6 linked regions of the Homo sapiens genome follow. The protein of the gene in region 4 purifies or fractionates together with the protein of the main gene of each other region. This does not show direct contact. Each region holds a gene or a part of one and is shown on either strand. Other genes may lie near its edges. The genes, in order: L1TD1, ZDHHC5, HCN1, REPS1, NUCKS1 and AP2A2.

Region 1 (3,500 bases), on a different chromosome or scaffold from region 4:
CAAGTCAAGTAGAAGTCTATTTCACCAGGGAGAGCTCAGTGGTTTTCCTTAAGGATTTTCAGTTTAAAAAAAAATATTAGAAGCATTATCAGGCTAGACCCGGTGCCACTGCACTCCAACCTCGGCGAGTGAGACCCTGCTTAAAAAAAAAAAAAAAAAAAAATTAGCATATTCAAACATCAATAAAAGTAAGAACTCATCACCTAGATTCAAAAACAAATATTTTCCCCCATTTGTTTAATCTCTCTTTTTTCTTTCTTAGTTGTTTGCTGTGTTTTAAAGTAAATCCCAGACATCATGCCATTTCACCTGTAAAAACTTCAGTATGTAGCTCTTATAAAATAAGGAGACTTTCTTAACTAAATACAGTATTGTTACAGTTAATAAAATATATATTCCTCAATATTTAATAATCAGTCCATATTCAGTACTCCCTGCATTTTACAGTTGATTCATTCAAATAGAGATCCAAAATAGGGGGAGCGTACATTGCATCTAGTGAATTCCCTTAGTCTCCTGAATGAGAGTGGGCCCCTTTATTCCTGTTGAAGTCCTGTATAGGGTCCTATGGACCTGTCCGGTGGACTATTTGGTTGCTTTCTCAGTCCTTGATTAGATTCAGACACTACTGGTGCTGGGTTTTTAAAATTTACTTAATTAAGAGGGATGAGGCTGGGTGAGGTGGCTCACGCCTGTAATCCCAGCACTTTGGGAGGCCGAGGTGGGTGGATCACCTGAGGTTGGGAGTTCGAGACCAGCCTGACCAACACGGAGAAACCTTGTCTCTACTAAAAGTACAAAATTAGCCAGGCGTGGTGGCACATGCCTGTAATCCCAGCTACTTGGGAGGCTTAGGCAGGAGAATCGCTTGAACCTGGGAGGTGGAGGTTGCGGTGAGCCGAGATCATGCCATTGCATTCCAGCCTGGACAACAAGAGTGAAACTTCATCTCAAAAAAAAAAAAAGGCTGAGGGTGAAATGTGTAATTAATATTGATTCCTTCTCTTTTTTAGTAATCATTTACATGTTTTACATGTTTCCTCTTTTGACCTTTACTCTGGTGTAATCAAGATTTTCTGTATACATTTGTCCCCCTTACCTCCTGTTGCTCATATTTTGGAAGTTACTTTGTGATAAATGAGTGCCGTGTTTTTTAAACAATTTTTTGTAACTATCATGCTTTTTTCTTTTTCTTTTCTTTTTTTTTTTTTTTAGCTGTTCATTTAAAATTTTTTATTTTTTATTTTTTTGAGACAGAGGCTTACTCTGTAGCCCAGAGGCGTGATCTGGGCTCATTGCAACTTCCACATCCAGGGTTTAATTTTTTTTTTTTTTTTTTTTTTTTGAGACAGAGTCTTGCTCTTTTGCTCTTGTCGCCCAGGCTGGAGGCAATGGCACGATCCCAGCTCACTGCAACCTCCGCCTCCTGGCTTCAACTGATTCTCCTGCCTCAGCCTCCTGAGCAGCTGGGATTACAGGAACCCACCACCACGCCCAGCTAAATCTGTATTTGTAGTAGAGACAGGGTTTCACCATGTTGGCCAGGGTAGTCACGAACTCCTGACCTCAGGTGATCTGCCCACCTCGGCCTCCCAAAGTGCTGGGATTACAGGCATGAGCCACCTCACCCAGCCTAATTTGTTTTTTAAAAAAACTGGAGATGAGGTCTCACTGCATTGCTGAGGCTGGTCTCAAACTCCTGGGCTCAAGCAATCCGCTCACTCACCTCGGCCACCGAAAGTGCTGGGATTACAGGTGTGAGCCACTGCGCTTGGCCTGTTTTAAATTTTTATGGTTACATAGTAGATGTATATATTTATTTCCATACAGGCATGCAATGTGTAATAATCACATCAGGGTAAATGGGGGTATCCTATGCACTACCTCAAACATTTATCATTTCTTCTTGTTACAAACATTCCAATTATACTGTTTAAGTATACAATAAGCTATTGTTGAGTGTAGTTACCCTGCTGTGCTATCAAATACTAGATTATTTTTGTACCCATTAACCATCCCTATTCCCTACATCCACCCACCTACTACCCTTCCCAGGCTCTGGTAACTATCATTCTACTCTCTTTTTTTTTTGAGACAGGGTCTCACTCTGTCGCCCGGTACAGTGGCGTGATCTTGGCTCACTGCAACCTCCACCTCCCAGGTTCAAGTGATTCTTATACCTCAGCCTCCTGAGTAGCTGGGACTACAGGTGCGTGCCACCACGTCTGGCTAATGTTTTTTTTCTTTTGAGACGGAGTCTCGCTCTGACGCTCAGGCTGGAGTGCAGTGGCACGATCTAGGCTCACTGCAAGCTCTGCCTCCCAGGTTCATGCCATTCTCCTGCCTCAGCCTCCCAAGTAGCTGGGACTGCAGGTGCCTGCCACCACACCCAGCTAATTTTTTGTTTTTATATTTTTAGTAGAGAAAGGGTTTCACCGTATTAGCCAGGATGGTGTCTTATCTCCTGACCTTGTGATCCACCTGCCTCGGCCTCCCAGAGTGTTGGGATTACAGGTGTAAGCCACCACGCCTGGCCTCTGCTAATTTTTGTATTTTTAGTAGAGATGGGGTTTCGCCATCTCGGCCAGGCCGGTCTCAAAGTCCTGACCTCAGGGGATCCACCTGCCTTGGCCTCCCAAGGTGCTGGGATTCTAGATGTGAGTCGCCGTGCCTGGCCTTTTTTCGCTATTCTCTAGAAGAGTTTGGGCACAGCTAAGATAATAGTTGCTTCTAAATTTTCTGATTTAATTATGAAAGTTGAATGGTGCTCCCATTTTTGAACCATGCTTTATCTGTAGTTGTGTCCCCTTGTTATTCATAGTATTCCTTATTTGTATTTTGGTTTTGTTAATTCTCTATAAGTTTCTGTTTTTCATTTCTTTGATTTGCGCGCATCTCTTTTGGTTTCTTGGGTAGATTTTGCCCTTGATCTGGTAATTTAACTTTAATTTTTATTCTTTCTAGAAAATTCTAAAATTTTAAGTCTATACATTTTCCTCAAAGCACCACTTTAGCTACATTCCCCAAGTTTTGATAGGTAGTTATCATTTTGATTTAGTATTTTAAGTTTCTCCATTAGTTTGACTGAATAGTCATTTTAAAATTTAAATAACTTTAACCTTTAGTATTTAAACATTAAACATAGAAGTTTTTAAGTTTAATTTATCTTTTACTTTTATGCTATCCTTTTTCCTGATTCAATTTTTATTGCAATGAAAAATTTCTGAAATTATTTTTTAGAAACAGCGTCTCACTATGTTGCCCAGGCTGATGTTGAACTTCTGGGCTCAAGTAATCATTCCACCTTAACCTCCCAGAGTGCTAGGATTACAGGTGTGGCACCGTGCCCTGCTTGAAATTCTTGGTTGGGTGCTGAGCATATATCTTTTGCCCTGACAAGAATGACATTTTAGCTGCTTATGTGATTCTTATTTTGCAGGGGAGGGGACAGGGTCTCACACTGTCACCCAGGCTGGAGTGCAATGGTGCGATGTCAGCTC
Region 2 (3,500 bases), on a different chromosome or scaffold from region 4:
GCCCGGGAGTGGGGGTGACTGGCGCAGCAACTTCTCTCGTTCCTGGAGAGAGGCCACAATGTGGCGCGACAGATTGTCGTAACGGACTGGTGAGGGCTCTCGGTGTGTTGGGCCAGTTGGCACCAAACGTGGGTGCCTCTCAGCTTCCCGTTGCTGGGCCAGCCTGGCTGACAGGAAGGGAGAGGTATAGCCTAAAGGTGGGTCTGGCTCAGGCCCTGCCTGCACTGACTCAAAATCAGGGCTGTCTGAAGGTGTGAGCAAGCTGTCATAAGATAGGCTTCCATTGCGTGTCTGGTTGGCCAGGCTCTTATAGGAGGTGGAGGTGGTGCCCTCTGAACGAATGGATTGCAACTGGCCCAGCTCAAAGCCTGTGCCCTGGGCTGACTTGAGGCTGGAGGAGCGTGAGCCACTGGATAGTGGATCGAAGTGAAAACTTTTGCCAAAGGTAGGAGAACGGAAGCTCTCTGGTTCCAAGCTGGGCTCTGAGCGGTAGCTGGGGTGACGGCTGCTCTCTGCAATTGAGGTTGGCTCCTTCAAGCTGTCCCCACGACTCAACTGAGGAAGAAAGTAAAGCAGGCTCTTAGTGCTCCTTTTGTGACAGAAGCTAGACCCCAGAGCTCAAGGAGTTGGTCAAAAAGAGAATTATGTGCCAATAATAAGCTTAGAACTCTTACATGCATTATCTGGGTTAATCCCTCAAGAAAAACTGAATTCAGGCAAATATCATCTCCTTTTCAGATACAGAAAGCAAGACGTAGAAAGGCTGAGTATCTCGCCCGTGGGCAGAACTGGGTTATAAACTCGGATCAAGCACTAATCTATTATGCTATATTGCCCAGTCTGATGAAGGACACAGTATCAAGGAGATTGAGTTCCACGAATGCCAACAATTAGTGAAATGTCCTTTCTTCTGCCTTTTCCTTCCCCTAATCTTCTTTTTTTCCCGTAACAGTTGGCATTTGTTTGTGTGTGTGTGTGTGTGTGTGTGTGTGTGTTTTAAGCCCAGGCTGGAGCGTGATGGTGCAATCTTGGCTCACTGCAACCTCAGCCTCCCAGGTTCAAACGATTCTCCTGCCTCAGCTTCCCGAGTAGCTGGGATTACAGGCGCCCCGCCACCACGCCCAGCTAATTTTTGTATTTTTAGTAGAGACAGGGTTTCACCAAGTTGGCCAGGCTGGTCTCAAACTCCTGACCTCGGGTGGTCCGTCTGCCTCAGCCTCCCCAAGTGCTGGGATTACAGGCTTGAGCCACTGTGCTTGGCCTTTTTTTTTTTTTTTTTTTTTTTGAGGTGTAGTCTCACTCTGTCACCAGACTGGAATACAGCAGTGGGAGCTCAGCTCACTGCAGCCTCCACCTCCCAGGTTCAAGCAATTCTCCTCCCAGGTTCAAGCGATTCTCCTTGCCTCAGCCTGCCAAGTAGCTGGGACTACAGATGCATACCACTACCAGCTAATTTTTTTTTTTTTTTTTTGAGATGGACTCTCACTCTGTCACCCAGACTGGAGTGCAGTGGCGCAATCTCGACTCACTGCCACCTCCACCTCCCAGATTCAAGTGATTCTCCTGCCTCAGCCTCCCGAATAGCTGGGATTACAGGTGCCCCCCCACCACGCCCAGATAATTTTTGTATTTATTTATTTATTTTTTTTTTGAGATGCGGTCTCGCTCTGCTGCCCAGGCTGGAGTGCAGTGGCATGATCTCGGCTAACTGCAAGCTCCGCTTCCTGGGTTCACGCCATTCTCCTGGCTCAGCCTCCCGAGTAGCTGGGACTACAGGCACCTGCCACCATGCCTGGCTAATTTTTTTGTATTTTTAGTAGAGACGGGGTTTCACCATGTTAGCCAGGATGGTCTCAATCTCCTGACCTCGTGATTCACCTGCCTCAGCCTCCCAAAGTGCTGGGATTACAGGCGTGAGCCACTGTGCCCGGCAATTTTTGTATTTTTAGTAGAGATGGGGTTTCACCACATTAGCCAGGCTGGTCTCGAACTCCTGACCTTGTGATCCACCAGTCTCGGCCTCCCAAAGTGCTGGGATTACAGGCGTGAGCCACCACGCCTGGCCTAATTTTTGTATTTTTAGTAGAGACGGGGTTTCACCATGTTGGCCAGGACGGTCTCAATCTCTTGACCTTGTGATCCACCCACCTTGGGCTCCCAAAGTGCTGGGATTACAGGAATGAGCCACTGTGCCTGGCCAGTTGGCATGTTATTACCCCACCTCTTAGAGTACTCAGTACCTTGGCGCTGGAGGAATGCGGCATGGCAGCTGACGTACTGCTGCTACTGTAACCCGGCCGATACTTGTACATGGTAGGTGTCGGGGGGCTGTCCTTGGCCAATAAGCTACTATCTGCAAGAAAAAAGGCCAAGGGGGCACTATTTTACAAGCGGTTTTTTGGTTTAAGAGACAGGGTCTCACTCTACTGTCCAAGCTAGAGTGCAGTGGCACGATTATAGCTCACTGGAGCCTTGAACTCCTGGGCTCCCACCTCAGCCTCCTGAGTAGCTGGGACTGCAGGCATATGCCACCATGCCCAGCTAACTTTTTTAAATTTTTTGTAGAGACAGAGTCTTGCTATGTTGCCCAGGGTGGTCTTGAACTCCTGGGCTCAAGCAATCCTCCTGCGTTGGCCTCCCAAAGTGCTGGGATCACAGGTGTGAGCCACTGCGTCTAGTCTATGAGTTGTTCACTTTATCTGCCTAGGGTTCCTTAAGTACAGGGAGAGGACAAGGTAGGAATAGATATACCCTTCGCTGAAATCAAGACTTTTAAAGACTCACACCAGCCCAGAATTCAGGGTGGGTAAATGCACCAAAAAGGTTCTGTGATGTTCTCTGGTCTGCCTAGAGGCTGACCATTTTCCCGGCAAAAGTCCCATTCACTGCCAATAGCTAAATGGCCTCTCTTCTCTTTCAGTTGCAAAGTAGCACAAGTACCAACTGTTGGGTGTTTAAAGTCACAACACGAGTAATATCTCCCAGCCCTTGCCTGTCTTCCACAGCTCATAAGCAACCTTCTCAATCCTGCCCCTAGTTCTAGTATCTTGCAAATCAAGGCAGCCCTTACCCTCATTAGTAGCCAAGCCGAGGTGTGTTCGCAACCCTGTGTAACGGCTCAGGTCTGGCTTAGGAGGAGGTGGAGGTTCAGCATCTGCAGACTGGCTCTCTGTTATCTCCAGGCTTCCCTTAGACTGGATTGATGAAGGGAGGGAAAATCAGATTTAGAAATTGAGCATTATGGCAACTCAAAGTATTAAATTGATATAAGAGGGAGGTATTTGGGAGTCAATTCTCATGTATTTTTTTTTTTTTTTTGAGACAAGGTCTCACTCTGTTGACCAGGCTGGAGTACAGTGGTACGCATGATCATGTTCACTGCAGCCTGCAACTCCTAGGCTCAAGTGCTCTTCCCACCTCAGCCTCCCAAGTAGCTGGGATTACAGGCACATGCCACCACACCCAGTTAATTTATTTTACTTTATTTTGTAGAGATGGGG
Region 3 (2,467 bases), on a different chromosome or scaffold from region 4:
TTGTAAAATGCACCAAACTGCGCTCTGTAAAATGCACCAATCAGTGCTCTGTAAAATGCACCAATCAGCAGGAGTCTAAAAGTAGCCAATCGCAGGGAGGATTGAAAAAAGGCACTCTGATAGGACAAAAATGGAACATGGGAGGGGACAAATAAGGGAATAAAAGCTGGCCACCCCCAAGCCAGCAGAGGCATCCCACTGGGGTTTGCTTCCACCTGTGGAAGCTTTGTTTTCACTCTTACTGCTCCTTACTCTTTGGGTCTGTGCCATTTTTAAGAGTTGTAACACCGCAAAGGTCCGTGGCTCCATTCTTGAAGTCAGTGAGACCATGAACCCACTGGAAGGAACCAACTCCGGACACAATATGACTATATAATTCTACCATGGGTAGAATAAGCAAGTAGAGCAAGACATAAGCAGTAGAGCCAGTTTTTGTAGTCAGGCTTTCTAAACACTGCAGGTGTATAGATATAGCTGATGAAGAGAAGCTCTTTGCAAAATATTGACCACATTCATTTATTTTTATAATGTCAATGTATTATTGATAGCATTAAAAATGTTACAGAAGGCAATGGACACATTGTACTGATGTGATATTAAGAAACATTGCTAGCTATGGCACCAAAATTTATGTGACATAAGGAAATTATAATACCTAACACATATTAGTTTTCTCTTCCCTGGTTCTAACTAGCAAGTGCCAGGAGGCAGGCTGGGTTAGACAGCGTGACCAAGAGTAAACTTTGGATGGTCCAGGATAAAATTATAACATAGGTGGTTTGTCGTTGCTTGTGTTTATTTAATGTTCTCTCGCTTTCCTTGTCTAGCCAAGATCCCATGCTATGTTGACTTGTCATCTCCAGAAATGTCTTCACACTTGGAAGTTCCCTTAAAAAGCCCTTAAAATTTACCTCCTCTAGGACTTACTAGTTCCAATTTTTTCAATATTAATACACATATGAATCATCTGGGGATCTTGCCCAAAAGCGGACTTCTGTAGGTACAGGGTAAGGCCAAGGACTCTGCACTTCTTGTAATTATACTTCTGGGTGATACTGACGCTGCAGTTCCATGCACCACACTTTCCACAGTGAGGCACGCAAGAACATTTAGAACTGCACATTTTAAACAGAATTGTAATATGTTAGGTTGGTAATAGATGTTAGAAGAGTTAGGCAAACAAGATTTAATTTTGAATGCTTGGAAACTAAGACCTTGAACAAATATGAGAAAGAAATGAGAATACATTTGGAAAACTCTTTTTGAATCTTTCAAATTTCTTTGGGTTATGTTCTTTCTTCCTTCAAAAGTAAATCTTTCCTTTCTCAGGAGTTTTCCTCACAAATTTAACAGGAAATAAAAACCTTTCAAGAAAGTCTCTTTGCCTCTACACATCTGAATATTCTCTGTAGAAAACGATGCAACCTGTTTTTTTGCAAAATTCCGTTATTTAAAAAAAAAAGTCTGAATAACTCTACGTTACCTGAATTCAATTATATAATCTATTGGAAACATAAAGTGGTCCTCTTTTGAAGAATTATTATATTTACTAATTTATTCAGATTTCTTCAATTGAATGAATCAATAGTATTCTCTGCTCATATGGTATTACTGAAACAACTACATAGAAAAAAATAGCAGGGCCGGGTGCGGTGGCTCAGGCCTGTAATCCTAGCACTTCTGGAGGGTGAGGCGGGCGGATCACTTGAGGTTAGGGGTTCGAGACCGGCCTGGCCAACATGGTAAAACCCTGTCTCTACTAAAAATTACAAAAATTTAGCTAGCCATGGTGGCGGGCACCTGTAATCCCAGCTACTCTGGAGGCTGATGCAGGAGAATTGCTTAAACCTGGGAGGCTGATGTTGCAGTGGGCCAAGATCCTGCCATTGCACTCCCACCTGGGTGACAGAGCCAGACTCCATCTTAAAAAAAAAAAAAAAAAAAGATGTTTCCCTTTGGGAGTAAATGGCCATTGATGTTACATTAGAAATATAATAGCTCCAAAGAATGTTCACCTTTGCCACTCTTTGGAGCGTGTGTGATATCTCCAATAGAAATTAAAGAACTGGCTTCACTTTTTTGTTTGTTTGGGTTTTTCTTGAGAAAGGGTTTTGCTCTGTCCCCCAAGCTGGAGTGCAGTGGAACGAACAGGGCTCACTGCAGCCTTGACCTCCTAAGTTCAAGCGATCCTCCTGCCTTAACTTTCTGAGTAACTAGGACTACAGGAATACACCACCTATAGTCGGGTTTTCTAAACACTGCAGGTATGTAAGTATATACTGGTCAATTAAAAAAATTTTTTTTCCTTGTAGAGACCAGGTCTTGACATGCTGCCCTGGTTGGTCTCCAATTCCTGGCCTCAAGCATTCCTCCCACTTTGGCCTCCCAAAGTGCTAGGATTACAGGCATGAGCCACCACGCCTGGCCTGAGAACTTGCTTTATTTTAGCCAAAATTATTTTATCACT
Region 4 (3,500 bases):
AAAGAACTAGTCTGACCATAATTTACTTCAGTCTGATTATTGTTATTATTATTATTTGTGAGATGAAGTCTTGCTCTGTTGCCCAGGCTGGAGTGCAGTGGTGCCACCTCGGCTCACTGCAACCTCCGCCTCCTGGGTTCAAGCAATTCTCCTACCTCAGCTTCCCGAGTAGCTGGGACTACAGGTGTGTACCACCACACCCGGCTAATTTTTTTGTATTTTTAGCAGAGATGGGGTTTCACCATGTTGGTCAGGCTGGTCTAACTCCTGACCACAAATGATCTGCCCAGCTCAGCCTCCCAAAATGCTGGGATTACAGGTGTGAGCCACCACGCCTGGGCCAGTTTGATTACTTTTAATTGTCGTGCTTTTTCTTCCTAGTAATTAAATGTGTCTAGGAATAGCTTTGATTACCTGGGAATAGAAGGTTGTGATGCAAGAACAGCAGCTAAGACACCCGTCTTTTGTGTATGTTCATCAACTTCTGGCCTTAATTCATCTTCTGATTTTAATCTTCTTCGAACAGGTTTAGGTGGTGGAGCAAGTGGTGTTGTGCCTTTGCTCTTTAAGACAAGAATTCCATTAATAATAAGCATTTTTGAAGACATTCATAGTTAGCACTTTGCAACACCATTTGCTTTCTTTAAGCCATTTGCTCTTGGAAAATTGAAAGTTACTTGTCCTACTTTAAATCTATATATTTGTGGCAAGAGCTAACTTAAATTACAGTGAGAAAAGATGTTTCTAGTTGACACCACAATCATGAATGTACCTGCAATATAAGTATTTTTAGAGCAACATACTGATGCAAGACTGTAATATTCACAGTTTTAACATAAATATGATACAGAATCAATATATACCTGTTCAACAATAAACAAAGGCAGTCTCCAGAAATATCTATGCATTATCACCATAGGATTTCTTACTCAAAAATACTAACATTCATCTTAGTGAATAAAATAACATTATAAAGTAATGGAAAGCTAGGCAACTCTTTAAAAAACCAAAAACATCATTATTAATATGCACAGTAATTATAACTTCTGAAAATGAGTTGACAGTTTGTCGGTGATTATGAATCTGCCCTTGGCAGAATAAAAAACAGCATTTTGGCATTTACCATAACTTGATTTACCTGTAAATAAATAAAAACAATAGTCAACTGCTATCTCTTTAGTTAAGTGATATTTTTAATTTGTTACTGTGAGTTGACAAAAATAAAGTTCATTACTTAAAAACTCACAGGACTACTAATGTAATAAAACATAGTGATATGGTTTGGCTCGGTGTCCCCAGATCTCACTTCAAATTGTAATCCCCATGTGTCAAGCGAGGGGCCTGGTGGGAGGTGACTGGGTCATGGGGGTGGTCCCCCATGCTGTTCTTATGAGAGTGAGGGAGTTCTCACAAGACCTAATGGTTTTACAGTGAGGCACTTCCTCACTCTTTTTCTATCCTGCCACCTGCTTCCCCTTTGCCTTCCGCCATAAATGTAAATTTCCTGAGGCCTCCCCAGCCATGCAGAGCTGTGAGTCAATTAAATCTCTTTTGTTTATAAATTACCGTCTCAGGTGGTATCTTTATAGCAGTGTGAAAACAGACTAATACACACACAGTGTCCAGAAAGTAGAATTTAAGCACTTCAGAAACACATGCTGTTTTTATAACTATTGGGAATGTCTAGATAACAGAAAAAAAAAGTTACCAAAATTATTCCCTCAAAGGGAAAGTGTGCTGATACTTGCAATCTAAAGTACACTGATATAGTTTAGATATTTGTCCCCTCCAAATCTCATGGTGAAATGTGACCTCTAATGTTGGAGGTGGGCCTAGTGGGAGGTGTTTGGGTCATGGAGATAGATCCCTTGTGAATGGCTTGGTGCCCTTCTCACAGTAATGAATGAGTTCTTACTCTTGAGTTCACATGAGAGCTGGCTGTTTAAAGAGCCTGGCATCTCTCCTTGCTCCCTCACTCACCATGTGACACACCGGCTCCCACTTTGCCTTCTGCCATGATTCTAAGTTTCCTGAGGCTTCACAAGAAGCAGATGCTGGTACCATGCTTTCTGTACAGCATGCAGAACCATGAGGCAAAATAAACCTCTTTTCTTTTTTTGAGACAGGGTCTCACTCTGTCACCCAGGGTGGAGTGTAGGGCACTATCTCAGCTCACAGCAACCTCCACCTCCCAGGCTCAAGCGATCCCCCCACTTCAGCCTGCCAAGTAGCTGGGACTATAGGCGCATACCACCACACACGGCTAATATTTGTACTTTTTGTAGAGACGGGGTTTCGCCACATTGCCCAGGCTGGTCTCAAACTCCTGAGTTCAAGTGATCCGCCTGCCTTGGACTCTCAAAGTGCTGGGATTACTGGTGTGAGCCACTGTGTCCGGCATAACCTCTTTTCTTTACAGATTACCCAGTCTCACATATTCCTTTATAGCAATGCAGACGGACTAACACAGACATAAAACATATAAGGATTGACAGATGAACAGATGGCATGGAGAGATATGTAGTAAAGCAAGTATCCTAAAATAATAATGGTATAAAGTAGTGAATTTACTGATGTACAATGAAAAATTGTTTCAATTTTTCTGTATGCTTAAACGTTTTCATAATAAAATGTTGGGGGAAAAAATTATACCTAAAACAGTTAAAGAACAAGTTAAGAGAACAGGGAATAATAACAACCTTAGAGGGCTGATAATTTTTCTTTATTATATTGAAGACTACAATAAAAGAAACTGAATTTCACCTATAAAGAAGTTCTACCTTATATAGTGGGAAGAATGCAATAACCACTTAAATTTTGAGAACCTGTGACACATACTTAACATAGATTACAGAATATCATCTCCATTAAATAGGCAGACTTTGTTCTGAGCTAGACTGACTATACTACAGTTAAAGGCAGAGAAATGGGTTAGATGATTTCTGGCTGACCTTATTTCTAAAAATTATTTCACATTACTTATGATGTACAAAATTATTATTATAAAAGACATTTTGCATACCACATTGGCAGGAGCACTAGCAGCTGTCTTTTCTTCAGTTTTACTATCTGTTTTGGCAACTCGAAGAGAACTTGCAGGATCAGAAGCTTTTTCAGCCTAAAAATGAATATGTTTATCACTATTAATTCTACATAACATGTAATTATGCATAAATATAGAATATGTACCAAATCAGAATAAAATGTTAAATATTCTGACAAGAAAACTGAGATGATGATAAGAAACTTGAAGGAACTTTATTAAATGAGCCTTCTCTGCTACTGAAAGGCAGATGGGAGAGCAGGTAATAGATGTGTGAGGGAGAGGAGGACAGGGCAAGGATGCAGCTATGTAACAGATGTGTGAGGGAGAGGAGGACAGAGCGAGGATGCAGGTAACAGATGTGTGAGGGAGAGGAGGATGGGGCGAGGATGCAGGTAATAGATGTGTGAGGGAGAGGAGGACGGGGCAAGGATGCAGGTAGTAGATGTGTGAGGGA
Region 5 (4,258 bases), on a different chromosome or scaffold from region 4:
AGTCGGCCACTGCAAAGGGTAAAGACAGCAATCTTGTATGAACAAAGTTAAACATAACGTGCTAGACACAGGTCTTTGCAAAACCATGCAGTAGCCAATAGGTCCACCATACCACCCTTCATTTGGAAATTGATGCTAAGGTGCCATAGGTACATTTCCAAATGCTCTTAAAATGTTTAGGTTCATATTAAAATAAAAATGGATATTTATGGTACAATGAGAACCAGAAAAACTGCAAAATTATACACAGGCCTAAGGGCAGAAATACCCCAAAAGACGACACAGTGACAATATTTTCCAACTTGTGCTTTTTTGTTTTTAAAACAAGGCTGATGATTCTGAAATCAGGTCAATGTCTATCACTTTTTTCGTTGATGTTAAATGCACTAAGGGAATATAGATTCTTCAATTATACTTTGAAACAACATCATTTCCCTAAGTCAGGACTTTTTTATTGCAAAATTTAACAAACCACCAAACTCAAGTTTAATTATTTCTGCTTTATTATTGGTCATGAATAAAGACTTCTTTTAAAAAATAATTACAAAGAATTTATGACTAAAATATACTCCGTAACCAACTTGCTCTGAAATTAATAATTTGAAAATGGCAAAGAAAAAAAAAAACAGCCCACAACATATTAACTTCACTCTTCAATTAGGGGAAATAAACAAGGTCAAAATTAGTTTAAACAACATACTGAGTAATAAAAAAGTTGTGCAGAAGTCCCAATGCCTCCAAAAAACTGATAGAATGTGCTTAATATATATATCCCCACATGGTAACATAAAAAATCCAAGTTTTCCAGTAAAAATGTTCTGTTCATGTTCCAATACCTAAATCTGGGAAAACAAATTCAGGCAGATGAGATAAGAACGTCACCACAATAAAATAAAGTCATCAAAACTTAGTGAACTAAAATTTAAAAGGTAGAGGAATTATTTTTCCTAATTTGACCTAATTTGACCACACAGTAATTACTTCCAGAAGACAAAAGATCCAATCCAGGTAAAATAAATCTTTATTTTATTATTTTACCTGATCCTAAAGAAAATATTCTACGTGAGTTGATGGATACATTGGTCAAGTTTTATGCCAAAAAAATTACGCAAACTATACTCTGAAAGAGCTATCCAGACTCCTTGCCAAAAGGCCAGCATAACTTTCAGAGTAGAGATCGTGAGTTACCACAGATGCTGATTGAAACAGAGCTAACAGCAGCTTTCTCCTCATTCCCACCCCGTGTGTAGGAGTACGCAGTCTCATACCACCACCAGTTGGAGGATGATCTAGTCTGGAGACAGAACGGTGTAGAACAAAACCCTTGCCAGGGTCCCAAACCTCTCTTTAGAACTCTAATTAAAGGTACTTCCGTTTCCCACACAACTTGGAATGAAGGGGAAGCAACGACTGTTAAAACATTTAAAAACTAAGCCTTTATCTATTTATTTAGAAAACACACTATGCAAAGAAGCCAATTCCTTACATTAAAAATATTTATTTGCAACAGCTCTCCTTTTTAAGGCCTCAACAGATTGGACTAAACCACACCCCTCCATAAATGGCACATTCCATACAATAGCCTGGAGAATGGCATAGGACGATTCCACCGACAGCTGGGGGAATAGCAAACTTGTTGAAATTCCGAGAATGAAGTCTGATGGTTACCCGAACCTAGCCCTTTTATTACTAAAGTCACTCGGGGACAAGAGGGTTACAAAAATATCCCGAGACGCGTACGCGGGTGAGAGTGGAACGAGAACCACACGGGATTTGGGCCGTGCTGTTAACCCGCACCTCCCTGAGTACGGACATTTCCCCGAGGAAGGACATTTCTAGTCGGAGAGAAAGAGCGAACTTTGGGGTTAACTCTCTCAAAACTCTGAGGTGGGGAGAGAGGCAGCAGCCCATTATTTTCCAGGATCCAGTCCCGAACTCTCACTTTTGCCCGGGGGGAAAAAAACGGGTCCCGCCCACGCTCGGCCCGATCCGGGAGGCGGGGCCTGCAGCGACCCCGAAGGACAGAGGCGGGGCCGGTTGGCAGTGCTGCCCCTCCCCCTTTGCCAGGAACACCCCCGTCCGCTACAGAGAGGGCTCAGGGCCCCCACCCCCGCGCCAGTCGCTGGGGGAAGGGGCAATACGGGTGCCTCCGCCCCTCCTCGCTGAAGGTGGGGAGTGGAGCTCGAGTCCGCCCGCCTCCCCGCGCTGGCTCCAAGGGGACGGCCCCGAGGAGGTGGGGCCTCTTGGGGGCGCTGACTTCACACCCCTCCCCCTCCGGCCGCTGGCGGCTCAGGGACACCCCGCCCGCTCTAGTGCGGTGGGTGGGGGAGGCAGCTGAGCAGACCGGAGCCCTGCAGCGGCGCGGGGCGGGGAGGGGCGCGCGCACGGGCGCGCAGCCACCACCCCCGCGCGCCAGCAGGGCCCCCCACGCTCAAGGGTGCGCGCGGGCCCCGAAAGGGAGGAGGCCGCGCGCGGCACCGGGGATGGCGGACTCTAGCCTTCTGTCCCCCACTCTTTTCACCACTCGCCCCCATCCCCCTCCAACCCGCTCCAGGCCTCAGACTCCGCACTGACCTGACAGGCCGCGACATGTTCGCTGTCGAAACAGGACCGAGTCGAGAAGCCAAAGACCAGGACCCCCCCCACCCCGCGCGCTCGGCGCCCCACCCCCCCCGAACTTCAGCCGATGGGACCGCTGCTGCCGAACCCCGAGCTGCTGGCTTCTCAAACTCCGCTGCTCTTTGGTTCAGGGCTCCTGGAACAGACGAGCCCCCCGCTCCCCCGTCTCTTCAAAATGGATGAATCAAACCAGCCGAAAATGCGCCAAAGCCGCCGTGCAACCAAACCCACTAGGGTTTGTGCGCTCCTCCCCAACACGCCTGCTCATTGGAGACTTCTGCCAGATGCGCCCAGATCATTAGTCCGTTTGAATCATCACGTCTTCCAGGCCCCGCCCTGCTCTCTGATAGGCTCCACCTTCACCGTGGGGGTCCTGTTAGTCAAGATGCTCTGAGAGCGCACGGCCGCAAAACAAAAATGGTCGCTGCTTAGCCCGCCCCCTGGTTTCCACTCCAGAGTTGCAGATTCGTCTGGGGTCGTATCTTAGAAAGACTAGAAAAAAAGATTTATGTAGGGTTCAGCGTTGCTCAGTGTTAGTTTAATGGTGTTTCATCTCGTCTGCCTTGATCACCTTGAAAATCCTCTAATAGCAAAACCCGTGGGAGAGGCAGCAGATTCGTCACTGCGGGGCTGCTACAGAATTGGAGGGAAATTCCTTAGGTTCAAAAAATTTGACCTTAAACCTACAAGCCCCTTACCCTGGCTTCGGCATTAACCCTCAGGGACCAAATGAGGCTGCTGGAGTAGAGAGGCAGGATCATAATCAAGGAATATCTTCACCCCCAATTACCATTCTCCATTCTGGACCTTGAGATCCACTTCAGGGTCATTAAAGTCCCAGTCTGGTGCATTACTATTTTAAGAAAAGAGTCAGGTGTACAATAACTAAGAGCATGAGCTCAGGGGCCACAAGGTATTTCAGGTGGAATCCCAGGTCCACTACTTAATGGTGGTATAACTTTCCTTCTCTGTGCCTCAGTTTTCTCATCTGTAAAATGGGAAACAAGGGTACCTAACTGCATAGGCTTATTAGTATTAAATGAGTTGATATATCTATCAAAAGTCTTTAGGATAGTCTCTGGCTCACAGTAAGTGCTACGTAAGTGTTAAATCCAAGTTTTAAAAGATGATTCCGTCCCTGGGTAGAGATGGGTGGAGCTGGCTCAAGACCCTATGAATTCTATTGATTTACCCTTGCACTTTGAAAAACAAAACAAAGACTCTTCGAAGTCATATAACTGAAAGTAACGCACATCATTTCACTTAAATCCGTGAGCATTTGTTGGATGCCTAATACTCTCAAAGGCAGAGCTCAGGATTCCTATGTGAATGGCTAAGGCTGAGTCTGCTATCGAAAATAGACGTCAATCCCTGTCACAGTCAAAGCGATCATTTTTGTTTGGTGGCTGTGCGCTCTCAGAGCATCTTGACTAACAGGACCCCACGGTGAAGGTGGGGCCTATCAGAGAGTAGGGTGGGGCCTGGAAGACGTGATGATTCAAACGGACTAATGATCTGGGCGCATCTGGCAGAAGTCTCCAATGAGCAGTCAGTTAACAACCAATTGAAGATACACTTTCCAAACAACAACAACAAAAAACACACCACATCTGCCTCCTGAAAGTCTCCCTTTGTAAAA
Region 6 (3,436 bases), on a different chromosome or scaffold from region 4:
CTCGCCTTTGCTGTTTCTCACAGTCCACAGCAGGAAGTGCAGAACATCTTCAAAGCAAAGCACCCAATGGACACAGAAGTCACCAAAGCCAAGGTAACACGTCTGGAGGGACGGCCCCGGGGGACACGCAGCCCGTGACCCCGCGCCAGGGTCTGGAGGGACGGCCCCGGGGAACACGCAGCCCATGACCCCGCGCCAGGGTCTGGAGGGACGGCCCCGGGGGACACGCAGCCCGCGACCCAGCGCCAGGGTCTGGAGGGGCGGCCCCGGGGGACACGCAGCCCACGACCCAGCGCCAGGGTCTGGAGGGGCGGCCCCGGGGGACACGCTGCCCGCGACCCCGCGCCAGGGTCCTCATTCTCCTGTTTCTTTGGACAGATCATTGGATTTGGTTCTGCACTTCTTGAAGAAGTTGATCCTAATCCTGCGAATTTCGTGGGAGCTGGAATCATCCACACGAAAACCACCCAGATTGGATGCCTGCTGCGCTTGGAGCCGAACCTGCAAGCCCAGGTCAGGCCCTCAGGAAATGGTGGAACACACTTGAGTTGCTTTTTATTCTGGCACAATGTACGTGGTGAGATGTGTAGCTCTTTAGTGCAGTTCAGTCAGTTTTGACAGATGTTGTTTAACCACCACCCTGTCAATACATGGTTGCCTCCCAGCCTCCCCGCAGCTGGCCACCGTGGAGCATCATCCCTAGTGCAGTTCAGTCAGTTGTGACAGATGTTGTGTGCCTGTTTAACCACCACCCTGTCAATACATGGTTGCATCCCAGCCTCCCCACAGCTGGCCACCGTGGAGCATCGTCCCACCATGGAGCAGCCTGGCCCTGGGCGGTGGCTCTCCCAGCTGTTCCTCTCTGTCACCGCGTTGTTCCTTCTCACCACGTCCCGTTCTGGCGACGGACACCTGTCTCCGTTTCACTTGGGTGGCACCCAGGAGTGCTGCTGTCGCCCAGGGCCTGTGTGTGGTTAGTGCTGCAAGAACATCCCACAGCTTCTCCAGGTGGCCGTGCCACTTTGCACTCCCGCCAGCTACGTACGAGACGCCAGGCGCTCCCATGCCAGCCCTCAGTTTTCATGCTGACAGTGTGTGTGGTGCTCAGGCCTCTGCCGAGTTGTGGGTGCCTCCAGAGAGTGGTCCCTGGGCATGGCCCACAGGGTTCTGCATGGCGGATCCTGGACCCGAGGGCTGTGTGAGCCTCGGCGTGCCCGTTGACCTGCTGTGCTCTCTGTTTCAGATGTACCGGCTCACGCTGCGCACAAGTAAGGAAGCCGTTTCTCAGAGATTATGTGAATTGCTCTCAGCGCAGTTTTAGTCCTGAGGATGGAAGACCAGGCTCGTGTGTCTTGTGTTGTCTTCGTCTGTGCCGTTTGTCTTCGTGGCCATCCTGCAGATGAGCACCGTGTCCAGTGCCACAGCACAAGGCGCCTCCCCGCCCCGCCGCCCCACACCTCTCCCCTTTGGGCTGGACGGGAACACACGTGTGTGGCTCAGGAGGAAAAGCTCAGCCTGGACTGTGGCAGCCACGGCAGAAGGTGGATCTTGGGATCAATTTTTATAAAAATCGAGACAGTTCTGTGGTTAAATCTACAAATTAAAGGGAAATTAGAAGTTGGCGTGAACGTGGCGTTTGTGGGAGTGTCACTGAGATGGCCCGTGCTGCCGCCCACCCCGCCTCGGAGCCTCTGGGAGCAGCAGTGCCACTGTGCATGGCGTGGGCTGAGCCTTGGTGTGTGGCCGTCCTGGTGGCTGCACACCTGGCGTCGTCCTGGGCCCTTGGGAGGAGCACAGCTGACCCTGGTTTTGCTGCAGTCCCAGCTGGACTGTTTTCCCAGGCAGGATTTTAATCTAGAATTTAGAAACATTTGTATTTGTAATGACTTCTGGCAAAAGCACGTGTCCTGGCCGGATGTAACTGTTCTCCTTTCCCAGCTCCTGTTTGTGAAGGGCGTCTGTTATGCTCCTGCAGTCGCCGAGGCCTTGGATGTGCAGCCAGGGGAGGAGCGTCCTGCCGGCCCCGCAGGGCCCCCAGGACTCCAGGGTAAAGTGTGGGCCGGTGGCGCAAGACTCAGAGGTGTGCTCGTCTCTTTCCTGTCAGAGTGGGCGTCCCCAGGCCACGGTGCAGGCCTGAGTCCTTCCACCGGCCCCGTCCAGTCGTCCCTGGAGGGGCTGTGGAGGAGGGACGCCTCTGTGTGGTCAGGAAGTGAAGGGGCCATTGGCCGCATGCCATGTGCCACCTGCGGCTTGTGTCTCACCTGTCATCTGGACTCAGCACCCAGGCTGCACGTCTGACACCTGAGAGGCGAGAGAGTGGGGCCGGCCTAGGAGCCAAGGCTGGGGCCTTGCGCTCTGTCCCCAGGATGGTGGCCTTGTTTGTCCTAAACACACCCAGCACAGGTTCTGGCTTCCTGACATGCTGTGGAGGCAGGGAGGGTGGGTGGCCACATGTGCTTGAGGGTTTTCACCCTGGCCCTCAGTTGCCTGCTGTGCGGGTCCCTGGGGCAGCTGCAGGGGCTCATGGACCCATCAGGGTCTCCACAGCTCCCCTGCAGTGTGTGCACCCCACAATGTCTGCGGCTCTTCTTCCGGCGTGTCGGGCTTTGATCACAGCATAGCCACGTCAGTGGCGTGCGCCTCTCGCACAGGCCATTCTGGGTCTGGTGGTGCCAGGTGCCGTGACACGCCGTGCTGGGCTTGTGCTGCAGCTGGGTGGTGTGGCCCTCATTCTCATGTTCCAGCTGCTGGGCAGTGCTCTGCCTGTGTGCTGCGCCTGCAGGCTGCGTGTGCTGCCGTGGATCTCCTGCATCCCTTGACCCCTCCCGCCATCAGAGGAAAGGCTGCTCCCCGAGGCACCGCTTCCCTGTGCGGCGCTGCAGAGGGGCCCTCAGTGTGGCACTCCTCGTCAAAGAAAAATAAAGGCTAGAACTGCACCCCGGATCACGCGCTTTCTTTGGGGGGAAAGCATCCCATGTAACCCTCATAGCTCCCCGGGGGTCGCGTGAGGCACAGACCCCAAGGTCCCCGACCTGTCCTTCAGCAGTGGGCTCACGGGCAGCGGGCATCAGAAAGTGACCTGCCCTTTGCTCCGCCGGTTTGATTCTGGGTGTGTGGTGGAGCTTTTTGGGACTCAGGTCATGCGGGAACCCCTCCAGCCTGGCCGCAGGGCTCCCCACTGTACAGTGTGTTGAGGTGCAGCCCAGGGCTCCTTCCTGGGGAACGGGAGGCCCCGTGGGGATCCTCCAGTTGATCCTACCACAGATGGTGCAGAAGGGGCTCTCGGGCAGATGGGGGTGGCCCCCGGAGGACGGTGGGCTTCGCCAGAGACGGAACAGTCCTAATGGAGGGAGGGCAGGGGCCCAAAGCCAGAGGCAGCTTCTCTTACCAGCCCAGACCCTGCTGGGGGCAGCCCTGCCCAACTGCAGATCCCAGG

Evidence for each region.
Region 1: the proteins of REPS1 (region 4) and L1TD1 purify together in Homo sapiens (co-immunoprecipitation; one large-scale study listed by IntAct). This does not show direct contact.
Region 2: the proteins of REPS1 (region 4) and ZDHHC5 purify together in Homo sapiens (co-immunoprecipitation; one large-scale study listed by IntAct). This does not show direct contact.
Region 3: the proteins of REPS1 (region 4) and HCN1 purify together in Homo sapiens (co-immunoprecipitation; one large-scale study listed by IntAct). This does not show direct contact.
Region 5: the proteins of REPS1 (region 4) and NUCKS1 fractionate together in Homo sapiens (co-fractionation; one large-scale study listed by BioGRID). This does not show direct contact.
Region 6: the proteins of REPS1 (region 4) and AP2A2 purify together in Homo sapiens (co-immunoprecipitation; 2 studies listed by BioGRID and IntAct, with this or other methods). This does not show direct contact.

What each region holds. Positions count from the first base shown.
Region 1 is NC_000001.11:62,201,349-62,204,848, forward strand, and holds part of L1TD1 (LINE-1 type transposase domain-containing protein 1), read left to right. Parts: intron 1-2,098; exon of another isoform or gene 2,099-2,209; intron 2,210-3,500.
Region 2 is NC_000011.10:57,695,614-57,699,113, reverse strand, and holds part of ZDHHC5 (palmitoyltransferase ZDHHC5), read right to left. Parts: intron 3,195-3,500; coding exon 3,071-3,194; intron 2,354-3,070; coding exon 2,241-2,353; intron 556-2,240; coding exon 1-555. UniProt on the Homo sapiens protein: Palmitoyltransferase that catalyzes the addition of palmitate onto various protein substrates such as CTNND2, CD36, GSDMD, NLRP3, NOD1, NOD2, STAT3 and S1PR1 thus plays a role in various biological processes including cell adhesion, inflammation, fatty acid uptake, bacterial sensing or cardiac functions.
Region 3 is NC_000005.10:45,254,448-45,256,914, forward strand, and holds the end of HCN1 (potassium/sodium hyperpolarization-activated cyclic nucleotide-gated channel 1), read right to left. Parts: 3' UTR 501-2,467; downstream 1-500. UniProt on the Homo sapiens protein: Hyperpolarization-activated ion channel that are permeable to sodium and potassium ions. Displays lower selectivity for K(+) over Na(+) ions.
Region 4 is NC_000006.12:138,908,254-138,911,753, forward strand, and holds part of REPS1 (ralBP1-associated Eps domain-containing protein 1), read right to left. Parts: intron 3,119-3,500; coding exon 3,023-3,118; intron 564-3,022; coding exon 415-563; intron 1-414. UniProt on the Homo sapiens protein: May coordinate the cellular actions of activated EGF receptors and Ral-GTPases.
Region 5 is NC_000001.11:205,747,383-205,751,640, forward strand, and holds the start of NUCKS1 (nuclear ubiquitous casein and cyclin-dependent kinase substrate 1), read right to left. Parts: upstream 2,801-4,258; 5' UTR 2,592-2,800; coding exon 2,575-2,591; intron 1-2,574.
Region 6 is NC_000011.10:1,009,305-1,012,740, forward strand, and holds the end of AP2A2 (AP-2 complex subunit alpha-2), read left to right. Parts: intron 1-23; coding exon 24-93; intron 94-378; coding exon 379-513; intron 514-1,243; coding exon 1,244-1,321; 3' UTR 1,322-2,936; downstream 2,937-3,436. UniProt on the Homo sapiens protein: Component of the adaptor protein complex 2 (AP-2). Adaptor protein complexes function in protein transport via transport vesicles in different membrane traffic pathways.